Homo sapiens: one gene and its partners. The protein of the gene in region 2 purifies or fractionates together with the protein of the main gene of each other region. This does not show direct contact. Each region holds a gene or a part of one and is shown on either strand. Other genes may lie near its edges.

Evidence for each region.
Region 1: the proteins of SLCO5A1 (region 2) and YEATS2 purify together in Homo sapiens (affinity purification with mass spectrometry; one large-scale study listed by BioGRID and IntAct). This does not show direct contact.
Region 3: the proteins of SLCO5A1 (region 2) and GOLPH3L purify together in Homo sapiens (affinity purification with mass spectrometry; one large-scale study listed by BioGRID and IntAct). This does not show direct contact.
Region 4: the proteins of SLCO5A1 (region 2) and STK39 purify together in Homo sapiens (affinity purification with mass spectrometry; one large-scale study listed by BioGRID and IntAct). This does not show direct contact.
Region 5: the proteins of SLCO5A1 (region 2) and CAND2 purify together in Homo sapiens (affinity purification with mass spectrometry; one large-scale study listed by BioGRID and IntAct). This does not show direct contact.

Annotation. Positions count from the first base shown.
Region 1 is NC_000003.12:183,749,480-183,753,385, forward strand, and holds part of YEATS2 (YEATS domain-containing protein 2), read left to right. Parts: intron 1-2,593; coding exon 2,594-2,774; intron 2,775-3,906. UniProt on the Homo sapiens protein: Chromatin reader component of the ATAC complex, a complex with histone acetyltransferase activity on histones H3 and H4. YEATS2 specifically recognizes and binds histone H3 crotonylated at 'Lys-27' (H3K27cr).
Region 2 is NC_000008.11:69,666,510-69,669,132, reverse strand, and holds the end of SLCO5A1 (solute carrier organic anion transporter family member 5A1), read left to right. Parts: 3' UTR 1-2,087; downstream 2,088-2,623.
Region 3 is NC_000001.11:150,690,560-150,694,465, forward strand, and holds part of GOLPH3L (Golgi phosphoprotein 3-like), read right to left. Parts: intron 1-3,906. UniProt on the Homo sapiens protein: Phosphatidylinositol-4-phosphate-binding protein that may antagonize the action of GOLPH3 which is required for the process of vesicle budding at the Golgi and anterograde transport to the plasma membrane.
Region 4 is NC_000002.12:168,237,251-168,241,156, forward strand, and holds part of STK39 (STE20/SPS1-related proline-alanine-rich protein kinase), read right to left. Parts: intron 1-3,906. UniProt on the Homo sapiens protein: Effector serine/threonine-protein kinase component of the WNK-SPAK/OSR1 kinase cascade, which is involved in various processes, such as ion transport, response to hypertonic stress and blood pressure.
Region 5 is NC_000003.12:12,813,330-12,817,235, reverse strand, and holds part of CAND2 (cullin-associated NEDD8-dissociated protein 2), read right to left. Parts: coding exon 3,848-3,906; intron 2,096-3,847; coding exon 1,803-2,095; intron 1,370-1,802; coding exon 1,228-1,369; intron 863-1,227; coding exon 1-862.

The DNA of each region.
Region 1 (3,906 bases), on a different chromosome or scaffold from region 2:
CTGTCTGTGTGAATTTGACTACTCTAGGGTACCTCATATAAGTGGAATCATAACATATGTGTCTCTTTGGGATTGCCTTATTTCGCTTTGCATAATGTCCTCAGATTTCATCCATGTTGTAGCGTATGTCAGAATTTCCTTCCTTTGTAAAAAAATTTATTTTTATTTATTTATTTTTGAGAAAGAGTCTTGCTCTCTCTCACCCAGCCTGGAGTGCAATCACGGCTCACTGCAGCTTTGACCTCCTGGGCTCAAGTAATCTGTCCTTAGCCTGTCAGGTAGCTGGGACTGTGGGCGTGTGCCACCATGACCAGCTAATTTATTTACTTACTCGTTTATTTATTTATTTATTTTTTGAGATGGAGTCTCGCTCTGTTGCCCAGGTTGGAGTGCAGTGGCTCGATCTCGGCTCACTGCAAGCTCCACCTCCCGGGTTCACGCCATTCTCCTGCCTCAGCCTCCTGAGTAGCTGGGACTACAGGCACCTGCCACCACGCCCGGCTAATTTTTTTTTTTTTGTATTTTTAGTAGAGACGGGGTTTCACTGTGTTAGCCAGGATGGTCTTGATCTCCTGACCTCATGATCTGCCTGCCTCGGCCTCCCAAAGTGCTGGGATTATAGGCATGAGCCACCGCGCCCGGCCTACTTGTTTATTTTTTGTAGAGACAGGGTCTCACTATGTTGTCCAGGCTTGTCTTCAACTCCTGGGCTCAAGCTGTCCGCCTGCCTTGGCCCCCCAAAGTGTTGGGATTATAGGCATGAGCCATTGTGCCCCGCCCCTCTTCCTGTTTTAGGCTGAATAATACTGCATTGTATGTATATACCACATTTTGTTTATCCGTTCACCTGCTGATGGACACTTGCGTTGCTTCCAGCTTTTGGCTGTTGTTAATAGTGCTGCTATGAACGTAGGTGTACAGGTATCTATTCAAATCCTTGCTTTCAGTTCTTTTGGGTATATACCCAGAAATGGAATTGGCTGGATCCTATGGTAATTCTATTTTTAGAGGAACCACTGCTATATTTTTTCGTGGTAGCCGCACCATTTTACATTCCCACCAACAGTGCACACGTATTCCAGTTTCTCCACGTCTTCACCAGCATTTGTTAATTTTTTTTGTATTTTAATTTATAGTAGTTATTCTGTTGTTTGTGATGTGATATCTTGTGGTTTTGATCTGTGTTTCTCTAATCATTAGTGATGTTGAGGATCCCTTCATGTGTTTGGTGACCATGTGTTTATCTTCTTTGGAGAAATGTCTATTCAGAGACATTCAGAAAATGTCTTTGCCCATTTTTAAATTAGGTGGTTTGGTTTTTGTTGTTGCTAAGTGACAGGAGTTATTCATATATTCTGGATAGTAACCCCTTACCAGATAGATGATTTGCAAATATTTACTTCCATTCCGTGTTATATTTTTGCCTTTTCACTCTGTTGATTGTGTCCTTTGATGCACAGAAGTTTTTAAGTTTGATGTCCCGTTTGTCTATTTTTTATTTTGTTGCCTGTGCTTTTGGTGTCGTGTCCAAGAAACCATTACCAAATTCAGTGTCATGAAGCTTTTCCCTTACATTTTCTTCTAGGAGTTTTATTGTTTTAGCTTTTATGTTTCGTTCTTTGATCCTGAGTTAATTTTGGTATATAGTGTAAGGTAAGGGTCCGATTGCATTCTTTGGCATATGGATATCCAGTTTCCCTGGCACCATTTGCTGAAAATACTGTCTTTTCCCCCACTGAATGGTCTTGGGACCCTTGTCAAAGATCATTTGACCATATATGTGAGGATTTATTCTGTTCCATTGGTCTGTATGTCTGTCTTTATGCCAGCAGCATACTGTTGATTACTATGGCTTTGTAATAAATTTTGAAATCAGGAGTCTGAGACCTCCAACTTTGTTCTTCACCTTCTCTCCCTTTTTTTGTATTCATCATATAATAATCAGCAATAGCCATTTAATCAGAGTTCACTAATTAAATCTTACTCTGTCTAGAGAAATCTGCTGTATTATATCAGAAGGTACTTATTGAGCGCTGGTCCAGGTGCTGGGAATACAGAAATGAACACGGTAGCTTCTTCCTTCAGAGTCAAATTCTTAGTGGCATTGAAAATGGGGAGGGTAGACAGTAAACACAAAAGCAAATAAAATTACTTCAGTTACAAATAAGTGCTGTGAAGATAAGAGTAGCTGGGGGATAAGGAAGTAGCTTATTCTTGGGTGGTTAGGCATGGTCTCTCTGAGAAGGTGCTACTTCATTGAGACCTGCTGGTGAGAAAGGCAGCCATGCAAAGATTTGGAGGAATAGCGTTGTAAGGAGTAGCAACAGCAAAATCAAGAGGTCCCAATTTTGTGAATAATTTCACTGAGATTTGTATGTTAAACCAGATTAGATTTTCACTGAGGTATGTGTCTGTTAAGCCAGATTAGATTACCTTCTAGAATAAATCCTTTAGTTCTTCAGATTGAAATTGCCTTTGAAGTGTGATTAGAAGTTATCTCTCACATCCCGGAGATTACATTCTTGGACGGGACTTGAGCTTTCTGTGACATTGATGATGGACTCATGAGCCTGATTGTTGCCCAATTGTCTAGGTAGTGGATGTTGAACTCCATCGCCATTCTCTCGGAGAAGACTGTATCTATCCTCAGTCCTCGGAGTCTGACATCTCTGATGCCCCTCCATCTTTGCCTTTGACCATTCCAGCCCCAGTGAAAGCTTCTTCACCAATAAAGCAGTCACATGAGCCAGTACCCGATACCTCTGTGGAGAAAGGTAATACAGCAGTTTTCCTTGCATAGCGTTGTTCTGAGGCATTCCTTTCCCATTTGCTGCTTTCAGAGACCTATAGTATATGGAAAATAACTTTGCTATAAGTGGACATGCTGCCTCTACTACACAGTTCTGTTATGAAAGCCAAATTTCCACTCTTGTCAAAAATATTTTTCCGGCCGGGAGCTGTGGTTCACACCTGTAATCCCAGCACTTTGGGAGGCCAAGGCGGGTGGATCATGAGGTCAGGAGATTAAGACCATCCTGACTAACACGGTGAAACCCCGTCTCTACTAAAAATACAAAAATTTAGCTGGGTGTGATGGTGGGTGCCTGTAGTCCCAGCTACTCGGGAGGCTGAGGCAGGAGAATGGCTCGAACCCGGGAGGTGGAGCTTGCAGTGAGCTGAGATGGTACCACTGCACTCCAGCCTGGACAACAGAGCGAGACTCCATCTCAAAAAAAAAAAAAAAAATTTCCATGAAGTTTTACTGACATATTATAAAATGTAAAAATAGCTAAAAAACATAAGATTTTTAAATTTATTTTTATTTTATTTTATTTTGAGATGGAGTCTTGCTCTGTTGCCCAGGCTGGAGTGCAGTGGCATGATCTCGCCTCACTGCAACCTCCACCTCCTGGGTTCAAGCAATTCTCCTGCCTCAGCCTCCCTGTTAGCTAGGATTACAGGCGTCCACCACCGCTCTCGGCTAATTTTTGTATTTTTAGTAGAGATGGGTTTTCACCATGTTGGCCAGGCTGGTCTCGAACTCATGACCTCAGGTGATCCACCCACCTTGGCCTCCCAAAGTGCTGGGATTACAGGCATGACCCACCACGCCTGGCCTAAAACAGATTTTTATCACTTGATAATTCCTTATAATGTATTACAGGAAGACTTTATGGTTCAGCTTCTGATTGTGCGAGCAAGAAACTTGGATATTAAATACCTGGTTTTACTTAAGAAAAGATTCATCACCAACAATGTATTTTGACCATGCCATTTTTAAATTTAACAAATATATGTGTATAAATACATATTTTAATGTTCCCATATATAAGCATAAAAGATATAAAATTGATCTTAAATGTTTTATTTCTAAGCCTATATTTTAATGTGGTTAGTATTATAGTT
Region 2 (2,623 bases):
TCATATTTAATACAGAACAAATCTAGTCTTCGTGTTAACATCGGGTCTCGGCAGAGTTTCTGAAATGAAACATTATGAAGAAAGGTAGTTCAGATTTGTTGAATCTGAGCTTTAGGGATTTCAAGTGTATTTTTTTTTATTTTCCTCTTTCAGAATATTAACATCTCTATTAGTTTTTTGATGAATATGAGTTTTAAGATTCCTAATAAGGGTTTTAAGTGAACACACATAAAATACATATCAAACCACTGATCCCGATTGTTCCCTTTAGTCGCTGTGACATTGTTACCTTTAGTGGCATGCACTTGGAAATGTCAGCCTTCAGAGAAGGGGGAGTTACATGGAGTAAGGCCTCATGGATGTCATGGTGGTCCTCCATGTTCACCAACCACCAAGAAAATTCTTCTTCAGTCCACAATTCCAGCTTGCGCTCTTTGGTGCACTTGGAGCCAGAAAGTGTCTTTTTGGCCCTGTTTTGTAGAAACCGTGCATGTACCAAAGAGAAACTTTAGAGTTTGGATGGAGCTGAAGCATTGATGGGAATTCCCTAGTGCACCCAGGAGCAGGAGGCAAGCCCAAGCCTCGGGTGGTAGCCAATTATATTTTGTGATCGTGTATGTACTTAAAACATCAGAGATGACACAGCACATGAATATAACTATTGATATGTAGGTGCATACTGAGTATTCTAAGTAGCAGATAGATACCAAAATACTGTATAATCCCAGAATTGCCTAAACTGCAGGTTTGCTAGTTCTCTGTTATACAGACCAGTAGGTAGCCTTTCCACACATTTGTGTTTTCTCTTCCATAATAAGAGAGTGCTGCGGCTGGCAGGCAAAGGTAGTTGCCTCATGCACTTTATCTTTTTGTCTTTTTCTCTTCTTCATCTTTTGGGATGCTGCTGGCTGTATCTGTCCCAAACTTCTTGTTGCATTAGAATCAGATCTGTGTATGTTTGAGGAGGTTTTATTTTAAAGACTTCAGTTTTACTCAGCTCTAGGAAGGGTCAAATACAACAACAACAACAAAAAACAGAAAACAAAAAACCCTCCCTAGGTGTTTGCTTTTGCAACATTAAAAAAAATGCCTTGGTGCTAAAAAGTATTTAATGACGCATGTTCACCACTAAAAAGCGCCACTGAATTCACAGTATTTCACTGCTAAGTGGCTGCATGTACTTTGTGTTTGGAAATCTGAAGAATTTTCCAGAAAACAAGCATCCATTACTCTCATTTCAACAGTTACTCCATCTATGCTGCAAAAATGAAGCGTGAAAGGGGGGATACTTTTCTATGGAATACTCAGTGCTTTTGATATTTATTTTAGCAAGAATAATCAGATGCCAAAAATAATTTCAGAGAAAGGTAGAAAAAATATTTCAGGTAACCTTTTCTTATTTCTTCTCCAAAAAGATTACACCCATGTAAGGTATTTTTAACACTGGGGTTTTGAAGGTGTTATCTTTTCTGGTATCCTATCACTACATGTTAAAATTGAAGGAGAAAATATTATTGAAACTAAAGTAATTGCAGGGACACATTAAACCAAAGGGGTGAACAAAAGAGGTTTAAAGTTTGTATCTAGAAATGAAAAATAAGAATCATTGGTAAGACTAGTACCGATTATTGGCAATTGGTAATTGATAATTGGTAAGAGTAGTACCAAATAATGGGCATTTTTCTTAAAATACATACCTCTACCCCAAACCCCAAATGTTAATTTAGAATCCTGAAACAGGCAAGTCAGGCTCTGACTCTTTTGTTTAAGGAAATGTAATACTGTGTCAACTAAACTGGCATTAGGTTCTTAGTGGAGTGTGTGTTTGTGTGTGTGTGTGTGTGTTTTGTGTAGAGGTATGTTTGTGATGAAAGGTTTTGCACTGTTGCATAAAGAAGTTTGATTTTGTGATTTTTAAAATGATATTCATTTGGAGACTTTTTAAGGTAATTTAAAAGATGTATAATTTCCGTGTGTTTAATGAAATCTGTTGTCGATGTACTAATCTTGGTTTACAGCATCTTGAATACTTGATTATTGAAAATTAAGAAAAAAGTTAAAAATGAATAAAGTGTGTTGGACTGAAATGAAATTGTTTCTAGAACTTTGTTGTTTGAAGGGATGAAGCAATGAGACCAATGCGATTGTCCACCCCTCCTACATCATTAACTCCTTACCTAACTGTTAACTCTACATTGAAGCAGAATGTTCTATGTGTAAAGTTTTAGGAGTATAGTTTAAAGAGCCATAGCATGTTTTTTTTTATTGAGTCTCCAAAGAGAATAATTTTAAGTAATTCATCACTTACTTATTGAAATTCAAAACAGACTTTCAGAACACAGAGCTATGTACCTTGAATGTGATTTGTTAAGTTATACTTAAATAACATATTAACCCTGAAATCTCAATGGCTTCATAACACACAGGTCTGTTTCTCATTCACTTACATATCTATTATGGCTCTGTTCCACATAGTCTTTCAGGGATCCAGGCTGACAGAGGCTCCACCATCTTGAAGTGGCACCACCTGGAACTTTCATCGTTAATATTGGTTGCTGGGGCAAAGAAAGGAAATGCCCTGAGAATGGCAAAAGAGCTTTTCTCTTTCTCAGCCTGGAAGTGC
Region 3 (3,906 bases), on a different chromosome or scaffold from region 2:
TAAAGGAAAGAGTCTAAAAGTCTCTGCCTGGTAACAAAATCTATAATCTGGTCCAAATCGAATTTACTGATTTTGAATCCCATTGTTCTCCACCTACTTCAGTCATACTGGCCTACTCACAGTTATCTCCCAAACTCATCAAGCTCATGATACCTTTGCTCACTCAGGTTCCCTCATCCAGAACGTGTTTCCTTTTCTCCATTCATGTTAATCCTCCCATTTTTAAAGGCATGGCTTGTTTTACTGCCTTTTTCTATTCTTCCCCGGATTACTCTATCTCATGATGGTTTCTCCTCTCTCTAACTCCCTTGGCTCATTCTAACATGCAAAAACTTGCTTTTTATTGTTGTTTACTTTAAAAAAAATATTTTGCATTGTGAAATATAATGTACACACAGAAGAATAAACAAAACAAAGTAAAAAGCTTAATTATTCCAAAGTGAAGATCTATGGCCCAGGTGCAGTGGCTCACGCTTGTAATCCCAGCACTTTGGGAGGCCAAGGCAGGTGGATCACTTGAGATCAGGAGTTCAAGACTAGCCTGGCTAACATGCTGAAAACCCTTCCCTACTAAGAATACAAAAATTAGCCAGGAGGGACAGAGCAAGACTCCGTATCAAAAATAAATAAATAAATAAAAAAGGCCGGGAGCAGTAGTTTACGCCTGTAATCCCAGCACTTTGGGAGGCCACACCTATAATCCCAGCACTTTGGGAGGCCAAGTTGGGTGGGTCGCCTGAGAGGTCAGGAGTTCAAGACCAGCCTGACCAATATGGTGAAACCCCATCTCTACTAAAAATACAAAAATTAGCCAGGCATGGTGGCGGGTGCCTGTAATCCCAGCTACTCAGGAGATTGAGACAGGAGAATTGCTTGAACTCGGGAGGCGCAGGTTGCAGTGAGCCAAGATGGTGCCACTATACTCCAACCTGGGTGACAGAGCAAGACTCTGTCTTAAAAACAAAAACAAAAACAAAAACAAAACTATGAAACTTCCTCTAGGTCCAGAAACAGAAAATTGTTACTATCTAGAAATCCTCTCCATTTTCCTTCCTAATTACTAACACCCTTTTCCTTCCCCTATCCCTTACAAAAAGATAATCACTATTCTAAAAACTATAGTAATTCCTGGCTTGATTTTGTTTATAATTGTACCACCTAAATATGCAACCTCAAATACAATAGTTTTTTGAGTTTCATATAAATGGAATCATACAGTATGTATATTTTTGTGTTTGGCTTTTTTTATTGAACATAATGTGAGAAATATACATGTTGTATAACAATGTTCATTTTCATTCTGTATAGAAAACATATTTATACTCATTTAAACAAATGGATGACTCTTTTTTTTTTTTGATGATTCATTTTTATCCATTCTGCTGTTGATGGACCTTCGGGTTACTTAACTTTTAAAAAGTATGTATCTTTTTGTCTCTCCAGCTAGAATGCAAGTTTCTTGAAGGCAGGGACCATATACTATACTATTTTATATTTACCTTAGTATTAATATTTAGCATAATCCTAAGCACATAATGGGTGTCCTCAATCACATTAAATATTGATTAAATGAATCTATTGATAGTTTGAGAGATAAGAAAAAAATAAGTACAGTTGGGAATCAATTTAATATTTTTAGAGATAGTTATGTAACTGGCCTTTTGTAACTACTACTATTTAAATAAATCACAAAGTTTGACCTCTTCTATTCATTTACACCTAAGGATTTATTGTCTTTTATTCTTCCTGAGCCAAATGAAAGCTAAATATTTGTTAACTATCCTCAAAAATAAAATTAGAGCAATTCAAAAGGTGGTTAATTGTTATGTGCTATTATTTATTATTTTTTGAGGCCTTGCTCTGTTGTTCAGGCTGGAGTGCAGTGACACAATCCTGGTTCACTGAAGCCTCGACCTCCGAGGCTTAAGCCATCCTCTTGACTCAGCCTCCTGAGTAGCTAGGACTACAGGCATGTGCCACCATGTCCAGCTAATTTTTTTGTTTTAAATTTTTTGTAGAGATGGTGTCTCACCATGTTGCCCAGGCTGGTCTTGAACTCCTGGGCCCAAGCAATCCTCTTACCTTGGCCTCCCAAGTGTTAGGATTACAGGAATTAGCCATTGCATCCAGCCATCTGCTTATTTTGTACAGTATCTCACCAATATGTTAAGTACTCACCATGGCCATAGCTCTTAATGAGCTGCTTTATTTTTTATTCTATTTCCTAAAATTTATATTAACCATTATAAACACATGAAGACAAGCCCAAAAGCAAAAATTCCAGTGCATAAGGTCAGCAGGAAATTAATCATTCCTATTCAAAGCTAAAACAAACCAAATAGCTTTTAGTTCTATATCCTCTTTTTATACAGTCAGTGACTGTTTCCTAGGTAATGTGTAAACGTCTCAAAAGAGTATTTATATCACCTAATCTTCAGTCCTATTCTGACATTCTCTTGGAGAGCTGGTTTTGCCTTTTCGTTTATTTGCCTTTTATAAAACTGAAGGCTCATCAACTTCTCAGCAAACAGGAAAATATATTTCCGGGCAAGAATTTCTGATATACCTACATCTTGGCCAGGTACACATAAGCATGTCTCTAATATTAGTTTTAACAATACACAGACTATAACTGGTCTGTAAATTTTGTTCAAGTTGGTAATTTAACAAGAAAAAAAGTAAAAAGGAAAATAGTAAATAAATGAAAGGCAAAATCTAAACAACAATGGTATTTCCAAGTCGAAGAATTATGTAGAAAAGAAGAGCTGTTACTACTTGTATGCAGCCAATTCACTTCTAGCTAAGGATAATTATCAAAGCCAAATTTAGTACTTTTAAAATCTAAAATAACATTCTAATTTTGTATGTTTTCAAAACTGAGGCCAGTAATAAATATACCTCTTTCTTTTCTTGCAGGCGGTGGGCGAGGGGGGGCGGTTATTTAAGGCTTTCCTGGAAAGAAAGCAGATTGTTTAAAATGTTACCTTCGTAACTTCTTCATGAGGGAATAGTGTGATGAGAAAACACAGCAAAAAGTTACAAATGAAGGATGATGATGTATACTAGTAGAGAAGCCAGGGAAATTTCTGGTTATATCACAAGACTCAGGACCTTAAGACTAACTGTACTATAAAATAAATGTTCCATTAAATAAGGAGACATTTAGGGAAAAAAGAGAAAAGCTAAAATTATTTTTAAAAATTTTCAAAAATTAAAATAATCCTCAATTGTTTATGTATGTGTGTGTGTGTGTGTGTGTGTATATATATATATATATATATATATATATTTTTTTTTTTTTTTTTTTTTTTTTTTTTTGAGGCAGGGTCTCACTCTGTCATCCAGGCTGGAGTGCAGTGGTGCAATCTTGGCTCATTGCAACCTCCGCCTCCCAGGTTCAAGTGATTCTCCTGCCTCAGCCTCCCGAGTACCTGGGATTACAGGCACCCGCCGCCACACATGGCTAATTTTTTATTTTTAGTAGAGACGGGGTTTCACCATGTTGGCCAGGCTAGTCTTGAACTCCTGGCCTCAAGTGATTCACTCACCTCGGCTCCCCAAAGTGCTGGGATTACAGGCGTGAGCCACCGCGTAATCCAACTGTTGATATTTGCCTTATAAAGATGCACAGAGGAAAATAAAAAATTATTTCTGCTATAAGAAACCTACCAATTGTTTATTTCTGTAAGGCAACTAATCACACATGTTCCTTGTCTTTTCATGTAAAAGACTATTTCTCCTCAAAGCTGAAGAAGACTTCAGTGTGTGGGCCCTTGTTCTTACTTTAATAAACGGTATTATTTCGCCTTTAATCTAACTTGGGAAACTACAAGTACAAAACTTTATACTATATCCTCCTCTCCTGTATCTTCTAAAATTTTGGAGTAATTTTGTAATTAAATACAC
Region 4 (3,906 bases), on a different chromosome or scaffold from region 2:
TTATTGGTGTATAAGAATGCTTGTGATTTTTGCACATTGATTTTGTATCCTGAGACTTTGCTGAAGTTGCCTATCAGCTTAAGGAGATTTTGGGCTGAGACAATGGGGTTTTCTAGATACACAGTCATGTCATCTGCAAACAGGGACAATTTGACTTCCTCTTTTCCTAACTGAATACCCTTTATTTCCTTCTCCTGCCTGATTGCCCTGGCCAGAACTTCCAACACTATGTTGAATAGGAGTGGTGAGAGAGTGCATCCCTGTCTTGTGCCAGTTTTCAAAGGGAATGCTTCCAGTTTTTGCCCATTCAGTATGATATTGGCTGTGGGTCTGTCATAGATAGCTCTTATTATTTTGAGATACGTCCCATCAATACCTAATTTATTGAGAGTTTTTAGCATGAAGGGTTGGAGCCTGGGATTCTAAGGACTTTGGGACCATAGGCAAGTTTCTTCAACTTTGGCCATTAGAGAGTTTTCAGTTACAAGACAAAGCAGCTGGGATGGATTTTTTTTCCTTTGGTCTCTTCTAAAATTAAATTTCCTAATTCTCTCTATATTCTTGTACCACTTCTCACTTAGGAACTCACTTATAAAAACCAGCCATGACCTGCCATTCCTTCCCCAGGAAACCCCGTCTGCTGCTCCTCTTCCTTTGCTTTCTTGAGTCACCCCATAATTAAACAAACAGAGATAGTGACATTGCCTGAGAGAAAGAAAGAGAACCAGATGATTCAAATTAAAATCTAAGCTACACAGGATAGGTCAATAGGCACCAACCTACCCAAAATGTAATCCTTTTTCAATCCCCAGACTAAACAGAGTAGGAAATAAAGCAGTTGGAATACCCTTAGTACAAACTCTGGTTCAAACTGATGCAACCAGTTCAAAACAAAATCATTACTTCTTCTAAGACCCCAACCATCCACAGAATGATTATGAGAAGTCTCACAACTGTCACAGGTCACTGGCTCCAAAATACTCCCTGAATGAAGATCTATCATTCACAGGGCAGAAAGTCATCCACCTCTACTTTCCATCTAGTTTTTTCTGACAAATAGCTCCAGTGGTAACTAAAAGTTAGAAACCTAAACCCATAAATGTCAATAAAATGTATATTTTTTACCTAAGGGAAGAATCACATGAGCACCCCCAATACTAGGCTTCTGAGAGTTATACTAAATGCCACTTACCTGGAAGAAGTTTGAAAATAAAGTCAGGGATAATATGAATGTAGAGGTCTCTACCATTTCTATCTTAAAATGTTTTCCCATATATCAAAATACACAATCAGTTTAAAAGGTCAATTAATCTCAATCCTCAATGTCCAAGAAGTTTCTTAAAGCTAAGCCAGAGTTTATTCTCAAATAACTGTTTGGCAAGTGAGAAGAAATGTGAAACATATCATTTACTCACATCGGATTCCAAAGTATTTATCTAAATCGACTCTAGAAATAAAGTATGCCAATCCATTCTCTAAAGGATTTTTCTCTTCTGCTTTTCAGTTAAGCCAAGTCTGAAATGACTTTTTAATTAATATATTGAATTCTTGTCTAGTATCAAAAACTTGGCCAATTGATGGCAGATAGGGAAAAAAGAAACACTTGAATCACTTCAACTAAGAGCTGTTTTGGTATAATCTAAACACAACTATCCTAGAGGAAAACGTATGACTTCACATGATTACATGGAGAATTTTATTTAAATAGGAAAAAAAAACTTTCCCAAAAAGTACACTGTAAAGGAATTATAACATCTATTAGAATGACCCGGTTCTATGGTCTTAGCAGGTACCACAGCCATCCTATCATGTCAGTCCCTTATAAGTTATAAAAATAGAACTCCTGCCATCCTAACAACCTTTGAAAGCCACTTGTTCTGCAATTCTGCTCCTGTGTTTCACCTGCATCCCTGATCGTCTCCAGCAGCCCTGATTCCTACACAGGAAGAGGCTCCACAGAACTTCAAGGTGAGTGTTATATATAAATACATGAACAGCAAGAGAGAGAGATCACTGATATACAAAAGAAAAGAAAGCTCTAGAGCTTTTGAAGGGCAGTGTGGGACTTCCCCACTCCACCCTACAATGTCTACGGATGCCAGAACTGTGGCAGGGAGCTCTGGGTCCTTTAATCCAGCCAGAAAGGCCACCTCTCAGTCCTAAGACCTCAGGAGAGCCAGGCCTCTGCCTGCCTACCTCCACAACACAGGCAGGTGGACGCACTCAAAGTGCTTACTCTTGATCTGTGAGGATTAATGAGCTAATTTCTACAGAGCCCTTTAAGCTGATTGGCCCAAACGCAACTAAATAAACCCCATCATTAACCACGGGCAAGATCAAATCCTCAGGATCCAGTGAGGCAAATTTTTAGACGTCAGGCAATGTTCCTCCTCCACAAGGTGAGGAAGGAGTATTTATCCCCAAAACTCAGAACTTCATCCAGAAAACATTTATTAAATATCTATTATGACATGCAGGGTAGGGAGATGAGAGACCCTGTCCTCAAGGAAGACTTAACAGTCTAGAGCCAGGCTGGCAAGGAAAATACAATTTGCAGATAGTGTGACAACTGCCAGGGAGCGAAAGACCCAACAGAGCCTGAAGGGCAAGGGGGGAGGGGGGCTCTAGAGGCAGAGATTGTTTGTGTGACAAGAAATCACTTGTTCAGGGTATGAGAAGAGAGGCCCAGTCAGGGTGCTGGTTACATGGTGTGTTCAATTCATGAACATGCACCAAGATATACATTTTTTATATGTACACTTTTCCACATGCATATTATACTTCAATAAGGGCAATATTTAAAAGAAAAGACAGAGCTCTTTGCTACATAGATGAAAAATGGAAGGGAAGGGTCTTGGAATGGTGTTCCAAGCAGAGGGAAATCTTGCCTAGAAGAGGCATTTCAGCAACTGCAAAAGGTTCCCACTGGCTGGAGAGTCTGTCCTGAGACTGGAAATTACAAGATGTGGCTGAAAAGGGAGGCAAGAGACAATTCCCAAAAGACCTTAAACACTGTGCTTCAAATTAAGTCTTGAGGGTGACGGGAGAGCTACTAAAGGCATTTCAGCCTGGGAGCAACGTGATCAAGAATTTTGGTATAGCAGTATCTTTCTGGTAGCAATGCACACTACAGCCAGAAACAAGAATGGAAAAAAGGAACCTGGTTAGGAAATTATTACAATAATCCAAATAAGAATCGATAAGGGCCTGAACTAAACCAGTGGTGGCTGACATGAAGAGTCAGAGTCAAATCAAAGAAGATCTCAAGGAGGTGGAGTATTTAGGACTTGGTGACCAAACAGATGTGAGAGATGGACAAAGACAGGAAAGTATAGGATGGCCAGCAGGTTTTGCCCTTGAGGGCTCTAAAGATGATGAATATAGAAGAAACAAGATTAGGACTGAGGCCAGGGTGGAGAGACAATGAGTTTAACTGTATGAAGTTCCTGTGAAACATTCAAACGAAGACATTAAAAAGGTAGTCCAAACACTGGTATACAGTCAGGAAGACCCTCAGCATTTGATGTGGTAATTGAAGCTTCAGACAGACAGAGATGTGGATCTGGGGCAGGCAAGGGAGTACAGGAAGTCCAGAAGGAAGGCATGGCATGGAAGCTCAAGCAAATGCCTTTCCAAAAGGAGAATGAAAGATGGCACCTAACCCTGCAGAGAGCAGAGAAAAGGACTGCAGTGTCCACTGGCTCTGGCCACAGAAGAGTCACAGTGATTTCAGAGAGTAACTTGGGTTTCTTAGGGAAAGGGCAGAAGCCAGACTGCAGTGGGCTGAGAGGGAATGGGAGGTTCCTTCCAACAATTTAGCAGTGAAAGGAAGAAACGAGATAACCGAGTAGCCAGAGGAGAAAGAAGTAGGGAGAGTGTTTTGTTTTGTTCTCTTTTGTCATTTAA
Region 5 (3,906 bases), on a different chromosome or scaffold from region 2:
CGGGTCCCTACCAGGGCCTGCAGGAAGCCTTCAGCAGCTGCCAGAACCCCGGCTGGCAACAGGGGCGAACGCAGCAGCCGCAGCAGCTCTGAGAGCACAGGGCCACTGACCTCCACCAAAGAGGCTGGCTGGGCCTGGGTCACTGTGGCAAGGAAGTCCACAGCCAGCTGGGCCACATGCATGTCGCTCTCGTTGACCAGGGCAGGCAGCTCAGCCAGCACGGCCTGCACGGCAGACGGTGGGAGGCTGAGGCCCTGGCTCTGGGCCAGGGCGTCCAGGGCTGCCAGTGTGGCCAGTCGCAAAGCCCGCTGGTTCTTCCGCAGGAATGAGGCCAGAATGTGCAGTGCCTCGGCCAGGATGGGCTGTAGGTCAAGCTGTAGTGGGGATACGGCCACCAGCGTAAGCGCCTTGATGGCGGGCAGCCGGGTGATCTCATTCCGCAGGCGGTCCAGGAGGAGCAGTAACGTGGGCTCCAGGTCATCCCCAAGCCGGTCACCCAGGTGGCCTACAAGGTGGCCCATGCAGGAAATGGCCCGCTCCTTCACCTCCTGGTCCAGGTCAGTGGCACGAAGTCGCGCCAGGGTGACAGCAGACATCTCTCCAACATATGGCTCAGGATCCAGCATCCGAGGCCTGTGCAGCGGCCACAGGGCCCGCACCAGCTCCTGCAGCACCACCAGGGCCTCGGCTGCAATCTTGTAGAAAGAGTCAGCCACACAGGCCATCACAGGTGGCAGGAGGATAGGCAAGTGTGGGTGGAAGGCCTCAGCTGGTTCGGTGCCCAGCAGCCCCTGCAAGAAGGCCAGGGCATCCATCCGGATGGTGGAGGAGCTGGAGCGGTCGGCCAGCGAGAAGATGATGCCTGCAGGGTGAATGCAAAGGTTATGAGGCCACCGCCTCTGATGCAACACGGCCCTCCCTGGAAGCAAGGCTGGGGTACCTACAAGTGCCTGAGCTGGACTGAAGCACCTAAACTCTTCTGCAGAAGTTTCCAAGAAGTCAGCCCTGACCAGTGGCCAGGGCTGAGGGAAACATGTCCAGGGAACTCACTGGAGCCAGCCTTGTTCTCACTGCTGGTAGTGGGAGGCCACTGGAGACTCTTGACCAGGGACTGAGCCTGGGATTGGGTCTCAGACTGTCTCAGGAACTGGGGGCTCAACTCAGGGGTGGGGTCTGGGTTCTGGAAGTGGCCCAGAACAGCAGATACCTGGTTGCAGTCCAGCCTACCTGATACCAGCACAGGCATATGCTCGGCCAGGCTGCCTGGGAGGACACCCGCCAGCTCGGTGAGGAGGCTGAAGCATCCCTGGCGGGCTCTGACGCTCCGATCTTTAAGCTGCCGCTGCAGGGCCTTGACCACAAGGGGCACCTGTGGGCAGGAGGGGGAAGTCAAGGTCAGGGAACACCCAAGAAACCTACCCACCTGCCCACTACCAGGAGGCTTTGCCAGACACATCCCCAGGGAGGATGTCGGCATCAAGATATCTCCCAAGCACTCGTCCCTCACTCTGTGCCAGGCTTTTGGTGACCGCACACAGACCCTTGGAGAGTAGGCAAATTTTCTGCGTCCATTTTACAGGTACAGAGAGACCAAGCAACTTGCTCAAGCTCACTCAGGCAGGCTGGCTGTCACTACTACACTCCAGAAGCCTGGCTGGCTCCCGCCCCCCACCCCAGGGACCCCTTCCCTTCCCTTCCATGGCTGGATGTTCTCCCAGCTGAGTTTCCAAGTCCAGGGACACTAACAGTGAGTGGCTGGGTAGGCAAATCGGGGGTAGGGGTGGAGGTGAAGGCACGCCCACCTGTCCACGTAGCATATGGAGGTTGCTGCCGGTCTGGGTGGGTTCCTCCATGGCCTCCAGCCATCCCTTCGGGGGCTGTGTTTGCCGCAGCAGCACGATGTAAGCAGTGAAGACGTCAGCCTTGACGTTCTCCTCGCGTTCTTTGAAGCGGCGGATGAGCACAGGTGCCAGGGTGCAGTGGAAATCGGGCAGCAGGTCAGGCCGCGAGCTGATCAAGGCTGCGATGCACTTGGCAGCTGCCCGGCGCACCTTCCAGCTCATGTCATCGTCATCGCTGTACTCGTCTTCACTCTCTGGGGCAGGAACAAGACACACGTGGAACCCTCATCTCCCAGGACAGGTCTGTGGCTCGGGGGAGAAGGGACAGGGAGGAGAGAGAGCTGGGCACTGTGCTTCACTTTTTGATGATCAGCATTTATAGATACCCTATGGGGAACATTCCCTACCTTTTAATGGGCATCTACTGAGTGCTACGGATGGGGCTAAGCATGTCAAACCCATAATCTTATTTTAGCTTCATGACGACCTTTTGAGACAGGGATTATTTCCCCATTATAGAGATGAGAAAACTGGGGTTTAGATAGAGGAAGTGGCTTGCCCCAAGTTAAGGAAATACTTGGAGTTAAACTAGGGTCCTCCCCTCTGCCTCCAGACCCTTAATTGTCTGGACTGTACCAGGGAAAAAACAGACTTCCAAGTCTTCATGTAGACTTGGAGAATCAATTTGGGGCACAAAACTCATCTTTTGGCATCAGGTTTGGCTATGTGATGTTTCGTTTACTGGGACTCCAGAAGGGAGAAGGGACAGAGCCTCCCTTTGGCCTCTTCTCTCCCCCGATCTCTGCCTCTCAAGGGTCCTGATTCCAAAGGCTTCCAGGCAGGATTAATAAAGAGGAAATGCTGGGTTTGTGTGGCTTTCTACCTGACAATCTCCCTGAAAGTCAAGGGCTCGTGCAGTCTTTACCATCACCTCAAAAGTGAAGGTACTGCCAAGCTCCATTTTACAGACGATAAGACTAAGACTCAGAGCGGGTGAGACTCTCAGGGCACACAGCGAGGAACAGCAGAGCTGAGATTCAGGTCCACGAGGCCCAGCCCTATCACCTGTGGAGGCACACAGGAGGCTCAGAGGGGGACAGTCTTGCCTGGGAGCACCCCAAGGCACAGGCTCAGAGCCCAGCATGGCCTTGCCCATACCACTCTGTGGACCACTTGGACCCACAGGGTGGTGTCTGGACAGCCACAGTGGGCCACGGCCACCGGGCAGCTCAGCAGCCATCCCCTCTAATGGATCACTGTCACCCCCACAGTAGGCCACCCACGAACACACATCCTTAGCTCTCTATTACTGACAAGTGTCCCACCTCCCTGGCTTGGCATTCAAGGCCCCCGCATGCCTGTCCAATCTCATTTACCATCCCATCTTGTTCCAAGTACCCCATCAGGCTCTAAATCCATCGTCTCCATCGATGCCCTGCCTTCAGGCCTAGGGGCATCTCTGCCCTGGAAATCTGTCTGAATGACAGACAGGACCACAGGCATAGGAGGAAAGAAGCTATCAAGTCCACCCCCATTGAGACATCTTGCTCCCCTGCCAGTGCCTGCCATTCCACCATCAGAGCTTTCCTCTGCTGGGTTAAAGACATTATCTCCTGAAAGCCATTCATAAAAGGGTACACGGTGGCAGTGCAGAGGTGGGGGAGCCTGACAGACCTGGCTCTAAGGCCCAGCTATGCCAATTCCTAGTTGTGTTATCTCAGGCCACTCTCTTCTCAGTATGTGTCCTTGTCTGAAACACGTGGGTAATAATTTCTGTTTTTTTAGGGTTATTGTGAGGAACACAACTAGTAGATGCTCAATAAATGACAGCAATGACTACTATCATTACTGTGGTCTGTGCAGTCACAGCGGGTGGGACTGGAGCTTGAGAAAGAGCTGGCATCAGGACAGGGGCACCAAATGTGACCGCTGTCTTTGGTTGGGGGATCCCAGGAAGGCTGTGTTCACCTCCACCCTCCAACCCCAATGATGGGCTGTCCACCAACCTTGCTCACTGAATTCACTATCCTCTGTCTCCATCTGCTCCTCATCCTCATCACTGTCG